Linked DNA regions of Homo sapiens: region 2 is linked to region 1. Evidence: fine-mapped expression QTL. A gene starts in region 1. The other region holds a variant in brackets. All regions are shown on one strand. Distances are between the middles of the regions. Region 1 holds the start of LINC02009 (long intergenic non-protein coding RNA 2009). Region 2 overlaps CCR5AS (CCR5 antisense RNA).

Region 1 (8,475 bases):
TTCTGCCACCGAAGGAGGCGGTACAGATGTTTCTGCAACTGGAGGGGGCGGTATAGGCCAATTTTTATCCTCCCTCTCCTATTACTTATTTTCAACTGGAGCTGTGGGTGGGACAACAGATTCTTTCAGTTTTTTACATTCAGCCTGCTGTCCCGCAGAATAACAAGGAGATAATGGCAGAAGTACAGTACGAACTAAACTCCAAGTGGAGAAAACTGAAGAATCAACTTGAAAACCTTTTTGATGAGCCTGTTTTCATCCTTCTGCTCTATCCCAATTTTCTACATCAAGAGTCCCTGCCTGTGGAAACCATGGGTTATGCATAATGACTTCCTGTAGCATCGTAGTTAATGTGAGAACTAACCTGAGCACCAGTTTGTTTCAACAAAACTTTAAGCAACTGCACATAATGTTTTTCTTCAACAGACCAATTCTGCCCCATGTTACCCTGATTCAGAAAACTTCCCATTCCCAGTACTACTTTAAGGCACTGCTCCCAGTAGCTCTTTAGGGCACTGACCTTATATCTGCTGCCGGCAGACTTGTCCCGGGATCCCCATTCACCTTGTCAATTTCAATTCCTCTGCTCCAGCAGATCTTCTTCATTCACATCCTCATAGTCCCTGTGTTCGGACGCCACTTGTAGAGCACCTGATTCTGTCGCTGTTCAGGGCGCCACTATGTAACCCACACGGACCTAGGGGGACTGAACAAAGTGGGGTGAAAGCGGGAATAAAAGACATGAGACAAAAGAGCATATTTGGAAGAAGGGGTCAGCGGGCAGTTTGCCTCTAGTGGACAAGGGCCCTGAGCTTTACACAGCCCTCCATATTTATTAGGCAAAAGAGATAGCAGGAAGAGGGGCATGGAAGAAGGGGTCAGCTGCTGGGTCCAGAGTAGGCTTGCAAGACTGCATTCTCCAGATGTCCCAGTAGATAACCTCAAGGAGCTCGGTGCCAGGAAGTGATTGCCCTCAGCAAACCTTCTGGCAGTGGGAGCAGTCGTGAGTTTGCCCACATCCTGCATTCATGATAAATAGCTTGCTATTTGATCATAAAGCCTCCAGTGGAATGCTGAGTTGGTTACGTCCCACAGGCCTTTGGCTCCCTATTTACCCCTTCCAGGTTATTAGCCATGACTTTCCCTCTTTGTTTCTCTTTTCTATACTTTCCATGCATTCTACAGAATAAAGTATCCTGGGGCTTTAAAGTAATCTAATTCCTACTGAATCCAAAATAATCTGATTTAATCCTTGAATTTTCAAACAATTTCAATGAATTTCGTTTTTCACCAGGGTTTGGACCTCCCCCATAATAAAATCCCTTATTTCTTTTTGCCACTTCAGTCATAAAATCCAACCTACCATTTTCCATTGAAAGCTGAGTCTTTCTTATTTACATAAAAATTGTTGGATGTATCTATGGACAAACCAGGGGAAATTAAGTGTGTGGTGGGGAAGTGTTAAGAGGGCCTCAGAGTGGCTGCCGACCAGCTCCATGCATCCCTAGGTGAGTCCCCATCCATTCTCTCCCTCATTCTTAATGTGTTTCCAAACAGGTGAGGAACAATGAAAACCAAGTCGGACATTCTAGTGCTAATTATATAGAGAGAATTTATGTAAAATGTGATAAATGCAAAATATTTCATCAGAAGGAGTATTAATGTTAAATAACCTCAACTCACTAGTAATTAGGCAATCATTTTCATTGATTAGCACAATTTAAAATTCAAGTTGCTAATGATATTCAGTATTGTGAGGATGTAATGAAACAGATAGTCTTATTCAGTATCGGCAGGACCGTATTATTATACATACCCTTAGAAGGACAGTTTAGCAACATCTCTCAACATTTTAGGTGAGAAATTTATCTGCAGCTGGTGCCTCGGTGCTGATGCTGGGGGATACTGGTGAGCATGGCGCAGCATTGGATGGGGGGCTCCAGGCTTCAGGCTCCATGCTTCAGACTGCAGGACCTGGAGCTGCTTCCTGCATCACAGCAGGGCTGCTACAGTGTGCTCTGGTGCAGAACTGGCAGGGGTGCCTGCAGGCCTCTTCCCCAGCATGTGTGTTCACTTTTTTTTTTTTTTTGAGGCAGGATCTCACTCTGTTGCCCAGGATGGAGTGCACCGGAGCGATCACAGTTCACTGCAGGTTCAACTTCCCCGGTTCAGGTGATCCTCCCACCTCAGCCTCCTGATAGCTGGGACTATAGGTGCAGGTCATGCGGTGTCTCATGCCTGTAATCCCAGCACCTTGGGAAGCTGAGGTGGGTGGATTACTTGAGTCCAGGAATTTGAGAGCAGCGTGGGCAACATGGCAAAACTCCATGTCTACAAAAAATACAAAATAATTAGCCATGCATTCACTTCTGAGGGAAAAGTCATGGACTTTGTGGTGCTGTGAACCCCATGTCACTCATACCAGAAAGAACATTGTGTGCTTTGGGGTCTTGGGAAAGCTGACTGACCACCTGAGGTGATGCATACTTATTTTTTTATTTATTTTTATTTTACTATTATTATTTTTTGAGACAGAATCTCACTCTGTTGCCCAGGATGGAATGCAGTGGTGCGACCTCGGCTCACTGCAACCTCCGCCTCCTGGGTTCAAGCGATTCTCCTGCCTCAGTCTCTCCAGTAGCTGGGATTACAGGTGCCTGCCACCATGCCGAGCTTAATATTTGTAGTTTTAGTAGAGACGGGGTTTCACCATGACTGCCAGGCTGGTCTTAAACTCCTGACCTCAAGTGATCCACCTGTCTCCACCTCCCAAAATGCTGGAATTATAGGCTTGAGCCACTGCGCCCAGCCAATGCATACATTTTTCCTCAGGAGATTAGCTTTTACCAGCAAAGGGCGTTCAGAATCAGTTAGCTGACCATTGTTTTCTGAAGTAATCACAGGCCAGTCCCTAGTGGGAGAAAGAAGTGGCCTCTGTAGCAGGACACCTGGAGCTCAGCCCCAGCTCTGCTGTGTGGCTGTGTGACCTTGGGTAAGTCCCTTAACTTTGCTGGGCTCAGCTTTCTTTGTAGGCAAAATCAGGGGCTTGAGCTTGTTCTCTCTACAGCTCTCCTACAGATTGAGTCTGTCTGCAATCACAAGGAGCAGGAGAGGAAGAGACTTAAAATGTGTTATTGTGGTCAGCAGCTATGGGCTGAATGTTTATGTCCCCTCCCAGCCATTCTACTCTTTAGCTTAGAGCTATTCTCCACATGGGACCCAGTGGGTCCATGAGGTCAAACTATTTTAATGATGATACTCAGAAGTTATTTATCTCTCTCCTTATTTTACGAGTAGAATTTTCCAAAGGTTATTTGGCATTTGACAGTCTAACAGATTGGATGGAGAACAAGACAGAGAATCCAGCTTCTGGCCAGAAGTGGTGGCTCACACCTGTAATCTCAGCACTTTGGGAGACCGAGGCAGGAGGATCACTTGAGCTTAGGAGCTCGAGACCACCCTGGCCAGCATGGCAAGATCCCATCTCTACCAAAAAATATAGAAATTAGCTCGCATGGTGATGTGCGCCTGTGGTCTCAGCTACTTGGGAGGCTGAGGTGGGACGATTCCAAGGATCACTGTTGTTGCTAATTTTTTTTCTTTTAAAAAATACAGATATTTTTAATAAAAGTATGTTAATTATGTTAACCTGTAATGGGCTTATTATTTCAAAATCAATTAACAATGTAAATATTTAAAACTTCTGTGTTAAAATTTCTAATAGTATAAATAGCAGTAGATTTAGCCCACTCTAAGGGAGATGGTTGTGCTTTAGTCAGGAGTAGGCCGAGGCAGCCTTCTGGTGCAGCATGACTCAGTGGGTTTGGAGGCAGGCACACAACTCCACACATTATGTAACCATGCCATGTGAGGTGCATTAGGTGACCACTCATATGAGCACGTGCTTGGCTCAAAGCCACTATTGTCTGTAAAAGGTAAAATTACCCTGCTGACACTACATATGGCTTGCACCCAGAGAGAGAATAAAGCCATGTCGAAACCGCCTACTCGAGTGTTTTTCCAGTTACCTGCCACCCACCCACCAACTCCCCTTGGACTTTAGTTTGGGCTAGAACCTGACAATTGGCATCACGAACAGGATCCTAAGGTAAGTGAGCCTTCGGTCCCTGCTGATTCCAGGTTGGCCATGTGACCACAACATGGGTTGTGGTACCCGGTGGTAGCCGTGCTGTGAGGGTGGGCCTGAGTGGAAACCTGGGTGGCAGTAGATGGGTCCCCCATGAGCATGGAGAAGGCGCTGAAGCAGCTGGAAGTGCAGAGCACCAAGAAGGAGAGAGCCTTTGCTGGCAGAGTTGGATGGGCATTTTTAACTGTGCTAAGAAAAGTACACACCCAGTCCCTGAGGGATGCAGACTGGAGGTCTGGCTACACCGATCTGGAAAATAATTAGAGGCTGCCATGAATGGGGACCTCCAGGTGCAGGCAGGATGCCTGGAGGTGTGGCTTCAGAGCTTGGAAAAGGAATTAGAGGCTACCATGAATGCAGGCCTGGGTCCATCATCTTGTCTGGAGATCCCCACTCAGTTTCATACCAAGGAGGAAGAACCCCTGTTGCGGGCTCACCCGGTGGTCTGACAGAAGGTAGATCATGAACAGCCACTGGGGCTCCAAGGGTGGACTCAGGGACTCCCCACCATAATGCAACACATTTCGTATATTGCCTGTACCCCAACTGAGTTGCAGGAATTAGGCAAGCAGTGTTGCCAGTGTCCAGGGGAACCCCTGCCTGCCTGGATGCTTCGTCTGTGGAACAAGGGAGCAGATGGTATCTCCCATTCCACCTCTGAGATGGACAAGCTGGCCTCCACCATGACTCACCCCTCTCTCTGTCAGCGGCTGCAAGTGAGCAGGTGGTTAGTGGCAGCGCAAGGAGACCACACCCTGACTGAGTGGCTACAGGCAGCCATATGAACTGTGTGGAATAATGCTGGTGAAATGCCCAAAACTGTGAGTAAATGGCAGTCATATGCCAATTTGGTGTAAGTCATTCGGGAGATGGGTATGCGGCAGGCTATGTTTGTCCTGAATACCTGAGGGCCAGATGATAAATGTTTCACCTCCCACATGAGGGATCTCATGTTGGGTTTGATGCTCCTGAGCCCCTTTGGCTCCCTAGCTGCTGTCCTCACCCCATACGTAGGGCACCGCATACATGAAGTAACCACTGCCATGGCGGCTCTCAGGGAAGCAGAAGGCCTTCAGGGGGATTGGAGGGTCCACACCATAAAGAAGGGGAAGTTACCCCACCCACAGGGGGCTCCCCCATAAAAAAAGGGGGCCCCAACGAGTGACACGCTCACAGATGTGGATAGATTTGATTTTGGCTGGGGTTGACTGAGAGAAAATTGATAAGCAGCCCAATGAAATACTCCTAACTTTGCGGAGACAGTTGTATGCAGGGCAGCAATTCCGGAAAATGCCCAAAGGGGAGAAAGGCATTGCTGTGTGACCTGGTCCTACCCAGCTCAGAGACTACTTGCTGCAGCCAGGTGGAAATGTAGAGCCTTTTCTGTTCAACTAGGGAACTGGCCAAAGGTGTCTGGCTTGGGGGGACACCAGATGACCAGAGGCCACATGTGGAATTGGCAATCCACTGGTCCCCCACCAATGTACAGTGGGTGCTGGTGCTGGTAGATACTGGCATAGATTGTAGCCTTGTTTATGGGAACCCAGTTAAGTTTTTGGGCAAATCTGCATATATTAAAGGTTACGGAGGCCAGTCAGTGAAAGTGAAACCTGTATCTCTGTACCTTGGCATTGGCCACTTGGCTCCTTGCTTATACACTGTGTATGTCTCTCCCATACCTGAATACATTCTGGAGGTGGATATTTTACATGGCTTGGAAGCTGTGCCATCTATCATGGATTTGATGAACCACTCGACAATGGAATTAGGACAGTACCACTATGTGGTGGACTTGGCCAATGCATTCTTCTCAGTTGACCTTGCTCTAGAGAGCCAGGAACAGTTTGCCTTGATGACAATGGACTTTCACAGTGTTGCTGCAGGGCTATGTGCATAGCTCCACCATATGTCATGGTCTTGTTGCCATGGATTTAACAGCCTGAAAATGTCCAAAGGGAGTCCACTTGTTCCATTACGTTGATGATATTATGTTAACCTCTGATTCTCTTGCAGATTTAGAAGCAGTGGCACCCCTCTTGTGGCAACATTTGGCAGCATGCAGTTGGGCCATCAACAAATCCAAGGTCCGAGGGCCTGGATTACCTGCTAAATTCTTGGGAGTTATCTGGTCGGGTAAGATGAAGGCCATACAAGAGGCTATCATTGACAAAATTTAGGCATATCCCTGGCCCACCACGGTGAGGCAGCTGCAAACTTTTGTGAGCCTCCTGGGATATTGGTGGACATTCCTGCCTCATTTAGCTCAAATGATAAAACCATTGTATCAGTTAACAAAGAAGGGAGCAATCTGGGATTGGGCTGATGTGGCTGAGACTGGCTTCCTGGCAGCCAAGTGGGCTATTCAGCAGGCACGAGCCCTGTGGGTATTTGACAAGGGGTGCCCATTTGAACTGGATATGCATGTGACCACAGATGGTTTTAGTTTGGGCCTGTGGCAGCACACAGAGTGCCTGAGAATGCCAGGAGGCTTTTGGTCCCAACTATGGAAAGGAGCTGAGCTCTGGTATTCCTTGATAGAGAAATAGCTAGCAGCTGTATATGCTGCCCTTCAGGCTTGTGAGAAGTGATAGGATGGGCTACAGTCACAGTGTGGATGACTTACCTGACAGCGGGATGGGTGCATTCATGTGTAATGACCCCCCAGACTGGGATGGTGCAGACATCCACTTTGGCAAAGTGAGGCACTTACTTGGAGCAACAGAGTACGCTGAGCACAAGCCCATTAGCAGCAGAGTTGCAAGAGGTCTTGGGACCTGCAGTCCTAATGCAAGAGAAGGCCATGGGGCCTGAGGCACCCCTTGACCCTGAGCCACTGCCATTTAAGGAAGGGCGTCCCTCTATTCCTGATGGGGCATGGCACACAGATGGGTCTAGTCGAGGTGCTACTCCTGCTTGGACCAGTGTTGCAGTCCAACTTAGTACCAAAACCATATGGTTTGAAACCAGATGTGGACAAAGTAGTCAATGGGCTGAATTTAAAGCAGTATGGATGGTGATCAACAAGGCGGAGACACCTATGGTAATCCGTACCGATAGCTGGGCAGTCTATGGAGGCCTAACTTTGTGTTTAACTACTTGGAAAATACAGAATTGGCTAGTTGGCCACCAACCCATTTGGGGCCACCAACCCATGTAGCAAGACCTCTGGGAAATGGGTCATTGCAAAGATGTAACTATTTATCATTTGTCAGGCCATATGCCTCTGGCCACCCCCAGCAATGACGAGGCAGAAGCCTTGGCCAAGGTCCGATGGTTAGAGTTGGCATCTACATGAGATGTGGCCTTGTAGCTACACCGGAAACTGGGACATGCAGGGGGTAAACTGATGCAACAAGTCAATAAATGTTGGGGTCTGTCTCTGCCCATGCAAGACATTTGGGAGGCTTGTCAGAAATGCCCGGCATGTGCTCAGGCATACCCTAAATGGAGGCAGCTGTCCAGTGCTACACAAGTGACAACAGGGCAAGTGCCCTTGACCAGGTGGCAAGTAGACTACATTGGGCTGCTGCCGAAGTCACAAGGGTATACTCATGCGCTAACAGCTGTGGACACAGCCACAGGCCTGTTGTTTGCCTATCCTTGCAGGGTGGCCAACCAACAGCACACCATCCAGACCCTGCAACACTTATGTGCTCTATATGGTTGCCCTTTGGTCATTGAGAGTGATGGGGGACACATTTTACTGGACAACAGGCACAACAATGGACATAAAGTAGGGATTCCATGTACCGCACAACTTGCAAGCTGTGGGTATGATTGAGTGATATAGCGAGCTCTTGAAGAATGGGTTTTACTTGCATGTCACACTCCTGTCTTTGCAGGGCTGAAGTTCCAGGCTGGACCTGATGCTCCAAACCTTGAATGAATGGCCATGGAAAAGCAGCCCAGCCCAGGTGGAGGCTTTGTTACATGGGCCACCACCCCTATTCAGTTGCAGATACACACCAAGGGTAACCGCCTCTGACCAGGTATGGGGATGAACAGTAACCTGTTGTTGCCTGCCCCAACGTCCCTGAAGGCAGGGGAACAGAAAACCTGGCTGTGGCCATAGCCCCTCCAAGCCCCCGGCTGCTGGTGGTTGTCCATCGTAGCTCCCTGTGGGGAGGGCCTACAGTATGACTTGTATGTCACTCTTTGGGTGTTCAATGAATGGTCCCCGAAGTTAACTGTTTGTAGGAAAACGGCCAGGGAAGAAACTTTCCTCCAGGGTTCAAATGTACTGTCTGTGTGGCCTACTACAAGCTCCCCTGTGACTTTCGCATGAATACAGGACCCAAAGGAACCATGGGGAGCTGAAAAGGTGTGGT
Region 2 (8,475 bases), 24 kb after region 1:
CTGTGCCTTAGCTTAGAGGTTATGGCTGCTCTCTACATCTGCCATTCCTGCATTCTTCAGCATTCTCCTTACCCCCTTTAGTAGTTCATACCCTTTTATAAGTTAATAACTCATTATATTTAATGTTCATGTGTGGTTTCTGTCTTGACTGTATGCTGATTGATACACACAACATTAAATTTAGTTCAGGGAAGGGATGGGGAAATGCTAGGATGATGCCTTTTTTAGAGATCTAACTTGATCTTGAGAAATAGGTATTAGATCAAAGAGCTAAAAACAGAAATCCCATTACTGGGTATACACCCAGAGGAATATAAATCATTCTACCATGAAGACACACGCATGTGAATGTTCATTGCAGCACTATTCACAGTAGCAAAGACATGGAATAAACCTAAATGCCCATCAATGACAGATTAGATAAAGAAAGTGTGGTACATATACACCATGGAATACTATGCAGCCATGAAAAGAACGAGATCATGTTTTTTTGTGGAAACACGAATGGAGCTGGAGGCTATTACCCTTAGCAAACTAACACAGGAACAGAAAACCAAATACCTTGTATTCTCACTTATAAGTGGGAGCTAAATGATGAGAACACATGAACTCAAAGAAGGGAACAACAGACACCGGGGTCTACTTGAGACTGGAGGGCGGGAGGAGGGAGAGGAGCAGAAAAGATACCTATTGAGTACTGGGCTTGATAGCTGAGTGATGAAATAATTTGTACAACAAACCCTCATGACAAAAGGTTACCTACGTAACAAGCTTTCACATGTACCCCAGAACCTAAAATAAAAGTTCAAAAAATTATTGTTTAAATGCATAATAACAAATTTGGAAAATTTCAAAAAAAGAGAAATAGGTATTAGAATGTTTAGACTGATGATAATTTAATCTGTCCCTTACTATGGCTTCTTCAAATATAATCTTTCTTAGATTATCAATTAGTCAATCCATCTATCTAATTTTTATTAGCAAATAAAATGTTACAGAAAATTTGTATAGAGAAAAACTATGATAGTGATAATCTCACATAATAGCCATTATAAGTTTTAAATACCACTGCTTCTTAATGGGAAATGTAGAAAAACTACTTTTAGAAAACAATCAATTTTCTTCTGAATTAGTTGTTTGATATTGAGTAGTAGATCAAAGAGGTAAATAATGGCATATAATTTTAAGGCTTCGGAGACCATCTTATCCTGCCCCCAGATTTTCTTTCCCATAATTGGCTGATCCCTAAAATTCCACCTCAGTACCCAATAATTAGTAGCTGTGATACCTGGGAGGGCAGATAATATTTCTAAAATACAGCTGTGTTGATAATCCACCCTGGAAATACAGATTTTATATGTACTTACTGGGAGTGAAATAGTGTTGACTATTCCCTAAAGCAGTCTTTCTCAATGCATGTTGAGTTTATTCCGCAGTATGCTAAAAAGTGTAAAAAAAAGGATGGGAGGCTATTGCTCATTTAAGTTTGAAAAATTGCTGGACTAAAAAACTAAAGCAAGTTTCTTTACTACAGGACTTCTCAGAGCCCTTCATATACTAATAGGCATTATGATCCTTCATGAGGAAGAAAGGGTATGGAGTGTTTCCCAAAATGTTTTGATCATGAAACCCCTTTTAAAATTTTCATACAGGTACTTATAGGCTAAAAGTTCAGTGAGTATATTCTGAGAAATGCTTCCTTAGACATACAAATACTACTGTGTGGTCTAGTAATAATAAATAAATAAATATATTATTAATTAAATTAATAAATTAATATTATTAATTAAATTAATAATAAATAAATATTACTGTGTGGTCTAGTGCACCTCCTGCCCCAGCTCTGAGGGAGCCTAATTGACTGAGGGGCCCAGCTGCTGCACTCTGAGACCCATGTCTGCGTTCATGCCAAGGCTGTGCCCTCCGTGGGCTGCTCCCACTCCATGACACTATTAGGGACACTATGATAGGCCCATCCCTTGGAGAGGGACTCCTCTGATGGGTGCCTTTGGCACATGCTTCAGCCAAACCTTGCGTCATTCCCCATCTCCTTCACTTGGAGTCAGACCTGCTTGTGATCTCATGGCTTTCCCAGCTTCTCCTGGCTCCCTTTGCAGTCCTGCAAATGTCACAGACATTTCCTCTATTATACTTCTTGTATGCCAGACCCCACCTTGGGTTCTGTATCTTGAAAGATTTGGACTAACATAGTCTTGGAAGGAAGGGCATCATTTTCTAGAGTCTTGAGTCCTTTGCTTACCATGAAGTAATACACTTTGCAGCATTTCGATCCCTTTCTTCTTACCTCCCATTTTCCTGTGGCCTGCGTGGACCAATCCTTTTGGAACACATAAAGCCACTTAATTCCATCATATTCCCATTCTGTCATGTTTGGCCAACTCCTCAGCTCATATGACTTTTTCTATTCCTCGTTCTTTGATTTGTGCTTCCTCTGCCCTAATCTCACCTCCCAATATTCCACTTTCTCCCACGCTTTTCCTCTGTGTCTCTGGAACCTGAATTCTGACAATTTCCCTGACATCTTTGATTTATGCCAAAAACATTCGCACCATCTCCTGTCCCTTGAGGATACTCCTTCCCTCTCACATCTGTCTCAGATTTGGGAGTCAGAAGGTGACATCCTTGGCCTCGGTGCCATTTTTTGGCTATTAATTCCCTTCTAGATATAAAGGAGACTGCTGTGGGCTCCACTTCTCCAACTACATTGCTCTCTGCTCCACCTCACTGCTATCATCCACTGACTGCCTGGTTGCCCCTATTTTATTCAAGACTTGTGCACATGGATAAGGGGCTTCTATTCACCCCAGTTTCCCACATCATCCTGGTGGCTTAGTTGTCCATGTGGACCCCCATCTGGTGCCCAAGTCTCAGCTCATTAACTCAACTCCCTGGCCTTCGGTTTCACTCCACTAGTGCCCAGCTGAGGTTTGTTAACATTGATTTACCACTGAATTCTCACAATAAAATTTCTCACTTTTCTGATGACAACTTTTACTCCTTTGGTTTCTCTCACTCCATTTATTCTTTGTGTAATATGTGTTGTTCATCAAGCCTTCCAGCCTCTGACTATCAGCCCCTCCCACGATCACATCCCTCTTTATCTAGCTGAGATCCAGTAGTCTGCCACTTAGTCATTCTCTTGTCAACACCCTGACCTCTCTTGAAGCCCCAGCCTTAGATAAATTATCCTCTACATTTTTTCTTTGAGTGTGTGTTTCCGAGAACAGCTGTTTAAAACCACTTAGCAGCCGGGCTCAAGCTTGTAATCCCAGCACTTTGGGAGGCCGAGGTGGGCAGATTACTTGAGCCCAGGAGTTCAAGACCAGCTTGGGCAACATGGCGAGACCCTGTCTCTACAAATGTACAAAATATAGCTGGGAGTGGTGGTGTGTGTCTGTAGTCCCAGGCCCGGGAGGCTGGGGTGGGAGGATTGCTTGAGCCCGGGAGGCAGAGATTGCATTGAGCTGTGATTGTGCTACTACTACTACACTCCAGCCTGTGTGACAGAGTGAGACCCTGTTTCAAAAAAATAAAAATAAGTAAAACCGCTTAGCTATGTGGACAAGATACATTGGTAATTTAAGATCTTCAACTAGCTTCCAGAGATTCTTCTAGATTCCCTGATAGCTGTTCTGAGTGTGACAAATTGTCACTTTATCCAATTTTTCCATCAACTATTTCAAGCTACCTAAAGCTTCCAGTCTCTTCACCCCCGTTCTAATGACTCCCATTTACTCTCAGGAAATGATCTCATCTTCTGCTTTTCTCAGAACTCCTCAACTCCTCAGGCCCCAACTTCAAATGCAACTGTGGTATGTCTACATTTTTCCTCTCTCCATGGAC[A/C]GAGTTGCTCCTCTAACACCAAAGGCTAATCTCTCCCCCTGCACTCTGGATCTCATTCCGTTTAACCTTCATCATTTTTTCCCACATTTTCTTTGAGTCCCAACTTTTTCCTCTCTATTAGATTATTCAGAATTTTTAAATGCTCAGATCTGTCCCTTAAATAAAGATTACAAACCCACTTTGACCTCAAACATTGGTCAGACCATTTACTGTCTCTTCTCCCCCTCTTCCAGGCAGTTTCACTAGTTGTCCAAACTCTGTTTCTACTTCATCACTGCTCATTCCCTACTCTACACCCTGCAGCCTGGCTTCTGCCCCCACCATTCCACTGAGATTGGTCTCCCTGGGTTCACCCACACATCCTTGTTTAAATGTAATCAGCTGCTGGGGCAGCTAATGCATCAAGTGCCCATGAACAGGAAGTGTCCAGGATCTCCCGGCTCTCCATTACTACAGACAATAACAACAACAAGACGCAGACATCAGTCCAGCCCACAAACACCATTACATTTAGAGATTCCCAAGCTGAAGTGGTGCTTAAGATTTTTTGACACCTGTTAAAATGTTATAGAATCTAAAAACATTAATACAGGACTTTGCAGTGAAGATGACAGTGTAGTGTAGATGAAGATGAGTAAAGCAGGATAGCAGACTCTTCCCTCCTCTAATATCTCAATGACCAAAAACTAGTTTTAAAACTATAACATCTGCTGGCAGCAACTGAACAAGAAATAGGGCACAATCTTACATCAAAACGTTGAAACATGGTGCTTTAGAGATATGCCTAAACCCAATCCTACTGGGTTTCCCAATCCTATGGAATAAAGAAGGAAAATAAAGAAATCCTGAGAATTGTCTAATACTCTCCAATCAGGAGACAAGTGGCCTTGGGGGGTGAATATGCATTCCTAGAAAGAAAAGAAAAATATTTCTTCAGTTTGACTTGAAAAAATGGAAAAAATTAAAAAAGAAAAAAAGACAAGAAAAAAGAATTTAAAAAACCCTATTGAGTTAAAGCTCCTACATTACAGAGGGTAGAAGGGTTTCTAGGACTTTTCATAGACCAGGACAATGTGCTGAGTTAGGACAATAAGACAAATTCCAAAAGAGTAAGACACCCTTGTATATACCGAATTGGCTCTGGTATAAAATTTGTTGCTTTTTTTGGATTTTGATTTTTTATAAAAACAATTTTAATAAAGTAATGATTTCATCAAATCTTTAAGGGTTATACTAGTGCGTGGAGCTTCTTAGAGGTATACAGAGGTTTATTAGCTCTGCCAGCTATCACTCAAGGTGATCCATTTCCTTGTGTGCCTTGCAGTTTCAATGTGAGTGTGTCTTGACTGGGGATTATTTTCTCTGCAGTAGCTTTTCATGGCTTGAAGTGGGAGCACTCCTTTCCAGAGGAGTTTTGAGTTTGTTTCAGCCGGGAACATTGAGGGCATCAATGGCCTGATATGAATTTTCCGCGCCTGGGTTTTGGGGTCTTCCATTTTGAGGGTATTATAAACCTGTGCATGAAGCACAGGATTTGTAGTCTCAGAGATTTTTCCCATACCACTTAAAGCCTAGGCAAAAATAGATAAGTGTTTGTGTTTTCCTCTGCCTGTGGGTGAATTTCTTCTAGTCCCCCTTTTCCCAAGTGCTAGATTTACATCAGGATCTCTCAGTTCCGGCTCCACATACCCCATAGGCTTCAGCCTTGCTGTCTGCCCCGTGTCGGAGTTACACGGACATGGCCTTTTTGATGCATGTGGGCTTTGATTTGTCTGCACCAGACAGTGACCGAAATGATCTCTTTCCATTGAGTAGCGTTTCAATGACCGTTTGTTGTAAAATGTGGTTCCTTTATTCATCTCATAGATATTTAGTGCCCACTGTCTTATAAATCTTCCTTTTGCCCTTCCATATCCATTCTCCACTCTCTACCCAGCTTTATTCTGGGGGATGCTCACCTTATTAACAGCAGGCTCCCCTGTCTTTCAGTTTTCAGTTGTGTTTGGCTGATGGGGAATTTTAGGCAGAAGATTGGAGAGCAAGGTCAGGGGAGTCAGGCCCTGGCTCCCTCCTGATGGGGTCTAGTGGGCTGATGTGTCCCTTGACGTAAGGGCAGCTCTTGTCAGGCAGCTCCCTCCCCTTGCCCTGTCTGGCCTTGCAGTGGGAATAGTGCCCTGCTCTCACTGGCACCAGGCACTGCACTGTGTATTGTGGCCTCCCTATACCTTGTCCAAATTTTTGTATAGAATCCTTCATTAAACTCACCTCAGTTGCCCTACTTAAGTGTGCCGTTTGGCTTCTGCCAAGCTCCTGAAGGACACCTCTCCCAAGTCCCAGGAACTTTGCCAGACCCTGGGGAGAAAATAGTGAACAAAGTGGAACCGTCCTCTGTCCTCGTGGCACTGGCATTCTAGAGGGAGATTCAGGTACGGAACTGACTATAATTCAGGGAGTCATGTGCCAAGCTGGGGGAGCACACAGGAGCAGTGGGAGCTGTCCCAAGAGCACCCGGCCTGGCTCACGAGAGGCAGGGGAAGGATTCCCAGGGTAGGTGTTACCTCAGTCAAGGGCGCATGGATGGGAGCCGGCCAGGTGAGGTGTGGGCCTCTTGCCCCCACTCCTCCTTTCCTCCTAATGTCTGCTTTTCAGGTTCTTGAGGGACCACCTACTTGTCAGAGATGGGGCAAGAAAAGAGAGAGTGATAGAATTCAAGGTGGTGACATTTTATTATTTATTAGCACCTGTGACTGAGTCTTAGTGAAAGAGAAAATTGAAACCAAATGCCAGACTATTTTAGGCTGGATTCCTGGGAATCCAGGGCTCAGGCTCTCTGAGAAGGAGAGTTGTATGCAGCAGACTTGTGGGGAGGGCTTCCAGGAGACACAATTGGAAAGGAGAGAACAAGACAGGACCAGGCAGAGGGAGAAGCTGCCCACGTGGTCACAGAGGAGGCCTCAGTTATTCCTACAAGGAATTAGGAATTGAGGGGAGGGCGCTAGGCCTCTGCAATCCAACATTAGCCAGTCATTGGCTCAGCCATCCCTGGGAAGGGGGCATTGCCTGGGCAGGCAGCTCCAGTTCCCAGAAAGGGGAGTAGATCTGAGTTCCAGCACCTCTGTTCCCATCTATGGGAGTGGGAGCATGGAGAGATGCATTGGCTTGAAAAGGGCATCTGGGCAGAGTCTCACAGTATCCACTGTACAGGTGGAAGGTTCTGAATTTCCTGCAAATTTCATTTACTCTGAATGATAGAAAATGGAAACAGAAATTTCTAAAGCCACAATGTCACAAGACCGTGGAACCCACATGTGGGCACACTGAAGGAGGAAGTCACGTGCACAGGAGGCCACACTGCCCACTCACTCCCTTAAACTATGCTGCTGGGGACTCATCCATCATCATTGGAGTGTGAAGTGCCCAGTTTTCACAGGGTCAGTCGAGTTGGGCAGACACTGGTCTGATATGAATCATCTTAAATAGATAAGAAACGTTTCTTTTATGAATAGAGGTAAAAATTAATACACAAAGTAGCATCCTCATTTAAAAAATATTCCCTTTAGTAAAATTAAATGACACATTGTAACTGTGCAGGAAAGGGTTTGGTCCTGGTCTTCAGTCTGGGTGGTGAGGCCCCTAAGCTGGGGACTGTGAAGGCCCTGCTTCTTCCTGCTCACGTCTCCCCCAAGGACAGTCCCAGAGTCTCCACAGAGGCTCCAGAGCCTCTTCCTTCCCAGGACCCACAACCTCCTAGCACTTGACTGGAGCCAGCTCCTACATCTGCACAGAGTCCACGGTTCCCATCTCAGCCACACCTTCTGGAAAGGGTCTTGGAAAGGGCCCCTTCCCTATCTGGTAAACCAGGACCTTCAACTTCAGAGGCTGGTCCTGTCCTCTCAGGAGAGCCCAGGGCTTGGGGGCAGAACCAGGACCTTCAACTTCAGAGGCTGGTCCTGTCCTCTCAGGAGAGCCCAGGGCTTGGGGGCAGAAGTTGTGCTTTTCTAGGCGGAAGGAGGGAACATTACTTTGTATTCCTTTGCCATGAGTGGGCAGAGGAGGAGACCAGGCAGGAGTTACAAAGTCTTTCTGCATTCCGATTGCATCACAGGGTTCCATGGATGTTTTTTCCACTCTTACCTTACTCTATGTCTCTGCAACATTTGACGTTGCTGACACTTCCTCTTACTCCCACAGCCCTCTCTCCCACAGCCAATCCCCCGGATTTGGCTCTTTCTTGGCACATCTCCTCACTGTTCTTTAGGGCTCCCTTTGCTGCCTGCATTCCTCCGGGTTCTGCTTGAGCTATTGAGTCCACCCCTACGGCATCCACTGCCTGTGACCCCAGATGTCGATCTCTACTCAGTCACTCTGCTGAGTTCAGTGTCAGCACATCCAGCTTCCCCTGACACTGCCACCTGGAGGTCCCCCAGGATATCCAACTCAGCCTGTCCTGAAAACCAAACTAATTGACCCACATCCTAAAACCAGTGCTCCCCATTTCAATGGGCCAAGACCCAAGCCTTGATCATATGCCTCCCTAAAAGTCCTGATAATCCAAGTCCTCCCTTGAGCCCTCAGAGCCATTAACTTCTCTCCAGTCAGGGCTTTCCTACC

Evidence for each region. PIP is the estimated chance that this variant, and not a neighbour inherited with it, causes the effect.
Region 2: its variant is fine-mapped to the expression of LINC02009 in esophagus muscle (GTEx, PIP 0.91).

Annotation. Positions count from the first base shown.
Region 1 is chr3:46,419,178-46,427,652 of GRCh38, reverse strand. LINC02009 (long intergenic non-protein coding RNA 2009) reads left to right here and starts at 3,986. Exons shown (of 5, transcript NR_151704.1): 1 at 3,986-4,108; 2 at 4,855-4,968; 3 at 6,161-6,280; 4 at 7,990-8,136.
Region 2 is chr3:46,395,075-46,403,549 of GRCh38, reverse strand. The region is part of intron 1 of CCR5AS (CCR5 antisense RNA); the gene reads left to right. Among named protein-coding and RNA genes, the nearest start is that of CCR5AS, 7.8 kb to the left of the region's middle. The variant A/C (reference allele first, on the strand shown) is at 3,865.